Linked DNA regions of Homo sapiens. The protein of the gene in region 2 purifies or fractionates together with the protein of the main gene of each other region. This does not show direct contact. Each region holds a gene or a part of one and is shown on either strand. Other genes may lie near its edges.

Region 1 (3,353 bases), on a different chromosome or scaffold from region 2:
GGGGAGAATGTGATATTGACTCTTGGTTTCTTTCCACACAGAAACCCTGGCCCTGGATGCCCATGTTGGCTGCCCTGGTTGCAGTAACAGCCATCGTGCTGTACGTGCCAGGTCTGGCCAGAGCTTCTCCATGAGAGCGTTCCTTGAGTCCGTACACCGTCCTCCCTCTAGAAGCTGGCATCACACTCATGCTGGGGACAAACAGAACCATTTTCTTCCTCTTTACCTCTTAAAACAGCAGAAGTACAAGAATACAGCTGTAGGGTCATTGCTTTAAATTATATAAAATGTATCTGTCTATAAAGAAGATATAAAATTGTGACTTTATTCTACTGTAAGCAATAATTTGCTTGCAATTTTTCATGTAATTTTTAAATTAGTATGTTAAGATTCTGAATATTATGGTGGCCTAAAGTAGGCTTCTTGGTACACCAGATTATTTATAACATTAAATTTATGAGTATTTTACTCTGAATTCTGATCACCAGATAATTCATTTTTCTGATTTGATAACTACCCAAACCAAACAACCAATACATACATGGGAAGAGAGGCCCTGTGTGCTCAGTGCCTATCAGTTTGAAATATATACACATATATATATTTTTTACATATTTACGCCATTTTTACTTGTTATGAAACCACTGAGCTATTGGGAACAAGACTTAGAGACAACTATTTGCGTGGATTTTTTTTTTTTTAAGGAAAAATACGTTTGGAAAATAAACTGTTATGGTGATAATTTGGGGAATATGTGCACGCTTGTTCAGCCTTAATGTGACTTGAAGATGTGGAGGACATCAACTTTGAAAAACTTTCCATGAGAGTGTATTTTCTTGAGCAAACTGAAGTATTTCTGGGAGCAAAAACATAGTAATTACACAATTTCAGTGCAGTCAACCAAAATGTTGAGTCAATTGGAATGTAATTTATTAAACCATGTATTTAAAGAGATATTTTTCTTTAAAAGCCAAGTTACTTTCTCATATACAGCATTTTAGGAAGCATGATTTTTTTTTTCTATCATCTATTCCTCCAAGCATGTTTAATTGAAGAAAGTATTAATATCTCTTTAGATAAGCTTGTATTGACCTAATTTGGTTTATGATGTGTCAGAGCTAATTCATGTTCAGGGTGAGCGTTGTACCTACCAACAAATTTCCTGGTTGGGTATGCAAATGGTTATTTTCTTTTTATTGTTGTTAATTGGGACTTTCTGTTAATGAAAAGCACTATTCCCAAGATTAATAGTGTTCTATGCACAATGAAGCACCTAAAAACACTGCTTGATATTATAAATTTAAAACACAAGTGAAAGTTTAGCCATGGTTTTGTGCGGCATCATAGTTATGTCAATAAAGTTTATTTAGGTCATAGAATATCCTAAAGTATCACATAGTTAAATTTTTCAGTCAGTGAAGACCGGGAGGGAATGTCAGTGAATTGGCTTGAATGTTCTGTGGCAATCCACAGGTCTAGCCAAATATTGAAATAGGAGTTTAGGGTATAATTTGCCTTGTGATGTTTGGCAGTCACTGTTTATACTTTAAAGGTTATATTTTAAGCTATTTGAGATTGCTTTTGGGAAGATCACTAGATTTATGGAGGAATTAGTCACAAATGACTTGTAGAAAATACTGTCATATAGTTCATTTCATCATTTTCTGTTGCAGGAAGCCACTCCACCACAGAATGCTAATATGCCAGTGGTACCCAGTACCTCTTGTATATAGGTTATTGCAAATATTGTTCTGAAATGCTTAACTTCAGAATTACATTTTTTAAAGTAAATAATTGTTTTAAATCTATTTTGTAAAGATATAAAGTACAATAGAATTTCTGGAGTACAGATTAAACTATTTGCACTAACACACGTGACGTGCATGATTTAATAAAATAACTTTACTCTCCCTACGCATGTTTGAGTTGAATATCATTGAAGTTCTTAATGCTGACTCTACTATTGGGTTGTTAATAGTCTTCTCTTGACATGACTCTTTATGCAACATAACATACATTTGGTATTCTTCAGGGTTTAAAAGAAAACACTGAGCTGTTTCCTCCAAGTTTTATTAACCTTTTATTTAACTTACTGCTTTATTTTTTTCTCTTTTAATATGGTTATTGTTAAAATGAGAGTCACTTGCTAGACTGGTCTCTTTAAATGTAAGGTCTAGTATCAATATTTACTTCATTCAAGTGGAATAAATGGCTTTTTGTAGTTACTTCCAGTTTTCCTCAAGAATAGAAATAAGTCTGTTCATAAGCAATACCTTCAGTTTTGTTCAGTTCACTTCCACGTTAAATAAAGAATAGGATTATTCACTGGTAATAATAGAGTCATTAAGAAATATTAAGCATTGCAGCTAAAAATTGAACAACCCTGTAATGATACATTTAAGAATTATTCAAAGGTGCTACATGGCAGGGTTAGAGAATAAAAAGAACGTGGTGTTTGAAGCAAAACAGATCTGTATTGGCATCTTGGTTCTACCTTTTATCAGATGTTGTTGCCTTGTGCAAATCACATTTTCTCTGAGTCTCCATTTTCTCATTTATAACATGCGGAGAATAATACTTATATTTGTGGTAGTAGTGTGAACATTAAAAAGATAATGTATGTGAAGTACCATTCGAGTGGTGAATACGTTTTTATGAGAATGTCATACTGAAAAAATATTGCAAATATTAAAGTTTTAGGTAAGCCTAAACTTTAATCTACTTTAATTAAATGAATTGATTGACTCAACCATTCAGAATTTCTGTGTATGAGTGAGATATGTGTGTAACATTATGAATCCTGAGAAAGCATTATCACCTAGCTCTGTTTGTCGCCTTCATAGTTCACTCTTTTGGAAGTAATATGCTTGGTTTGGTGATGAACCAATTGCCCACAATGGTTTTGGAATTCCTGTTGTTATTGCCTTTAGAGCCACTTTGAGTCACATGTGAAAACCATTCACGTTGCCCTATAGTCAGAGGCTTTCAACCAAAACTAGTATTGCCTACTTGATCTCTCACTTTAATCACTACACTTGACCAAAATCTGGTGACTCTTGGCTGCTTCCAGTGACTATCTACTATCAAAAGGATGGGAATCTGCTACCAAAGAGAAAAAACTGCATGCAAATCAACTGAGTTAAAACTGCAGTCTTGGCTGGGTGCAATGGCTCACACCTGTAATCTCAGCACTTTGGGAGGCCGAGGCAGGTGGATCACCTGAGGTCAGGAGTTGGAGACCAGCCTGGCCAACATGGTGAGACCCTATCTCTACTAAAAATACAAAAATTAACCGGGCATGGTGGTGGGTGCCTGTAATACCAGCTACTCAGGAGGCTGAGGCAGGAGAATTG
Region 2 (3,758 bases):
CCTAAAGTGGTGCTTAGGGGGTCAGAATTTTCTGGATCTTTGCTAATCCAAGCTTTAGATTTAATTTAACCAGGACCACATGCTTGTCATCTCTCTGATGCAAATTTTCAAAATCATTTTAATTTAGATTCTAATGTCTGCCTGGGTTTTTAACAGGCTGTGAACCAGTGAGTGCCTTGTTAATGTAGAATGATTTTTCCCCCCTGGGTGGGTGTTAGTTAGCTCCTCTCTGAAAATGTCTCAGAGAATGGTATTTTAATTGACTTGTAGAGAGCTGCTAAATTTGTTATTATCAGCAATCAGAAAGTCTTTGGTCTACCACACATCTCCCTCCCTACTATCTCTTCATTGTTTGGCTGAAGTTTGCCTCTTGTGAGAAAACAATACAACTCCCCTTCTCCACACACTTTTTTTCCAGCCCAGATTAATAGGTATCCCCTACCCTAATCCCAACTCTATGATCTAATACCTTTTTTAGGAGGAACCACTTCTTTTTAATATTGAAATCTGCTGGTTACTTTATGTTTTCTCAAGTTCAGTTGACTAGAGCTGACCACAGGGTGTCATCAATTCAGATTCCTAAATAACCCTTTCTCTCCACACCCAGTCCTCCAGCTGGTGAGCCCTGGGCCAGATTGTTTGATCTTCAGGTATTTTAAATTTTAGTTACATCAATTAATGTAAATTAATCCAAATGCTAATTTTTGTGGTGCAAGAAGTTTCTTATGTAAATTCAGGGTATGGATAAGCTAATTAAGATATCCATCTTTGGTGGCTCTAAGTGTATTATTTGTTTTTAAATAAAGTGTACAAATATAGATAACATGCTATAGGTGTCTCATGAATTGGAATATTTGTCAGATTTGGGATCTAGCTGTGGCTTTACAGTAATCAGTTAAATTAACATAGTCTGATTTGGGGCTTTTGGGGGAGGAGTTGTAGAGGGGTGCAGAGAAATAAAAGGATATTAGACAAAGTATACATGAGTCCAAAATTAATGAACCAGTCTTAATTACTGATTGTGAGGAAGGAGAAGTTTATAGAGAATTTGGGCCTCTGAAAAGCCAAATTAAAATAGCTTCTAGGATTGGGTCAGTGGTACTTTCAGAGACACATATGTTTAATGAATAGGTTTTATGTTTTTCAAATGTTCAGTTTAAATGGCTTTTAAAATTTATACACATATATAAATACAATGTTTTTATTTTTTGTTTCGCTACTTAACAGACATACACAAGCCTTCCACACTCCCTGCCCCTTCAAATCAACATTATTTTTCAAGGCCTTTGGCCTGCCCAGAACTCACAGTCTTTTTGTTCCAATCAGGATCCACAATACAATATGAAATTTAAAAGGCATCTCTTCTGATATCCTTGAAACTATCCACCATTGTTTGGTGTTCTGTATGCTGGTATACTAATGAGTATTATATCCTTTGGTATGTACACACATTTTCAGTAGTGTTGGAAACACCTCTTTTATCTTTTTAATGAGAACTGAGACATGATTAGCTTGAGTAATTTTGGAGATCTATCTCAGGAGGTCATTAAAACTCCAAAAATTATTCACGGATTGATGAACCTCCTGGGGTCAGCCTAAGATTGCCAGGTAGTATTCTGACCTCCTCTGGGTTTCCCAAGATCACTGATGTTTTGCAGGGCCCCAGCATTGTCCTGGCACATAAAATATTCCCAGAACACCTTGGGAGTCAAGCATACCTTTTAACCTAAACATTATAATCATGGAGCATCCCTCCGCCTGTTACTTCTCAGGATGACCAGAACACTCCAGTTCTCTAAGGAAGCACTGACATACGGCTCTGAAAATTGGAATCCGTTTTCTGAAACACAAATTTTAACTCAGTAAGTTTTGTATATCAAATGATTCAAAACCCACCAAACATAAAATGACTCGCTTCTAAGTATCACTCAAACCCTACAAAACCTAACCCTTTCCTTATTCCTAATTGATATTTCACTAAAGGTAATGGTAGTTTCAGTTAGATTGGAAGTCATTATTTGGGTGAGCAAAGTCTGCAATAACCTACTGATAGGAAGGACCTATTTCATAGAAAAGTATCTTGTCCTTGGTGATTTAGCCATTCACCTTACGTGAAGAGTGGTCCAGATGCCAGCTCCACATTGACTTTTTCTGTGTCCCTCTTTAGGTAATTAACCCAGTGATGTAAAGGAGAGCCCACAGTAAAACATCTGTTAAACAGCACTTGGAGTACTATAGTGTTATTAATTTATGTGCTATAATTTCTTATGCCATCATAAAATCTAGTGTATGTACCAGGTTCCCAATTCATTGCCTCAAACAAAAGATTTTTAAAAATTCTAATAGCATCAAATTAAGGGTAATGGTAGGGAAACCCATCATCCACAATTAAATATGCCCAAACTGAAAACTTTAAGAAAAAAAAGCACATGGAAAGCAACGTTTTACATTAATCGTGAGTTGTAGAAATAAACAGCTTGTGGTTTGTATATGTGCCGAAATGTTAAAGTATGCTGGCATCCAACTACTTCCCTTTGGAAATGGGACCAAGACAATAATTTTTCATGCATAAACAAAATTAACTTAGAGCAAAAGTAATTTTATCAGAAACAGTTTATTTTGGGGGCTGGATAACTTGGGTGAGAGTGTGGGGAAAGAAGTACCTTACCAAAAAGGAGAAGCAACTGACCCTGTGGCCTGAGCCACATTGTCTTCCATTTCAACTTCAATGGGCTGGCAGTATACCACTTCTGACCTCAAAGAATGAATGGTTCCAATTCTGGCTTGTCATTGGTCCTTGTTATCTAAATTAAATATTTTTAGGAAATATATCAAAAGTATCCTAGAGCCCCATGGCAAAGTGTCAGAGGAAATAGTTTTCATTATATTTTAGGAAGCTGTAAAAATATAAGCCCAAGTATTTTGTGTCATCTGCATATGTCAGGATGAAGACCAGGCATGTAAGAAATATCCTAAAGTAGCCAAGTGATAATCTCATGAAAAAATATGAGAATCGTTTTTACAGAGTGAGTTCTCTTTTGAATGGTTTTGACTATGCTTTTAAAAACATTTTTAAAATGTACTTACATCTTTTTCGATAGCCCACGTATTTCAGAATATCCTCTTGATAGAATAATATCACTCAGTGTGATTTTTAGAAAAAGAAAAACTCGGTGGTCTCATATCTTTTGACAGTTGTTTGTGAATAATACCCTCCCCAACAACCTTCCCAGTACTCAACTGCTATGTAAGAATGCTTTCTTATGTGGTAAATGTCTCAGTATTTTGCTGCCTGGTATTTGTTCAGTTTCCTTGTATATCTCAGGGTCAGAAGGAATCAGGCTTTCTCCCAACTCTGAAACATTCAGACTTACTTTCTTTTTGGTCAGCCTTTTAACAAGCAAGACAATAAACTCCTTTTGTCAGAATCGATTTGATTAAAAAAAAAAAAAAAGAATGTGCTCCTTATTTCTCATTGCTGTAGAATACGTAGGAATACACATCTACTAATCACAATTAAAAAATAAGAGAATCTTTAGAAACATCATTGCTTTCTGGAGGTAGAAATTTTGAACTTGAAGGTTGTAGTTCCAGGCAATTTTGTGCCCTTGAGGTGTCCAATTGATAGTATAGCTTGCCTCTGCTAATAAATACACAAAAGTTTTCTTTCCTGTGATTTTCAGAAATTATTTTTGGAATACAAAGATTAATAAGGAATATGTGATGTTTATCTCCTGCATTTCAAAATCTTCTGGATT

Evidence for each region.
Region 1: the proteins of STRN (region 2) and SLMAP purify together in Homo sapiens (affinity purification with mass spectrometry; 5 studies listed by BioGRID and IntAct, with this or other methods). This does not show direct contact.

Annotation. Positions count from the first base shown.
Region 1 is NC_000003.12:57,927,255-57,930,607, forward strand, and holds the end of SLMAP (sarcolemmal membrane-associated protein), read left to right. Parts: intron 1-41; coding exon of another isoform or gene 42-134; 3' UTR 135-2,749; downstream 2,750-3,353. UniProt on the Homo sapiens protein: Associates with the striatin-interacting phosphatase and kinase (STRIPAK) core complex, forming the extended (SIKE1:SLMAP)STRIPAK complex.
Region 2 is NC_000002.12:36,840,861-36,844,618, reverse strand, and holds part of STRN (striatin), read left to right. Parts: 3' UTR 1-3,758. UniProt on the Homo sapiens protein: Calmodulin-binding scaffolding protein which is the center of the striatin-interacting phosphatase and kinase (STRIPAK) complexes.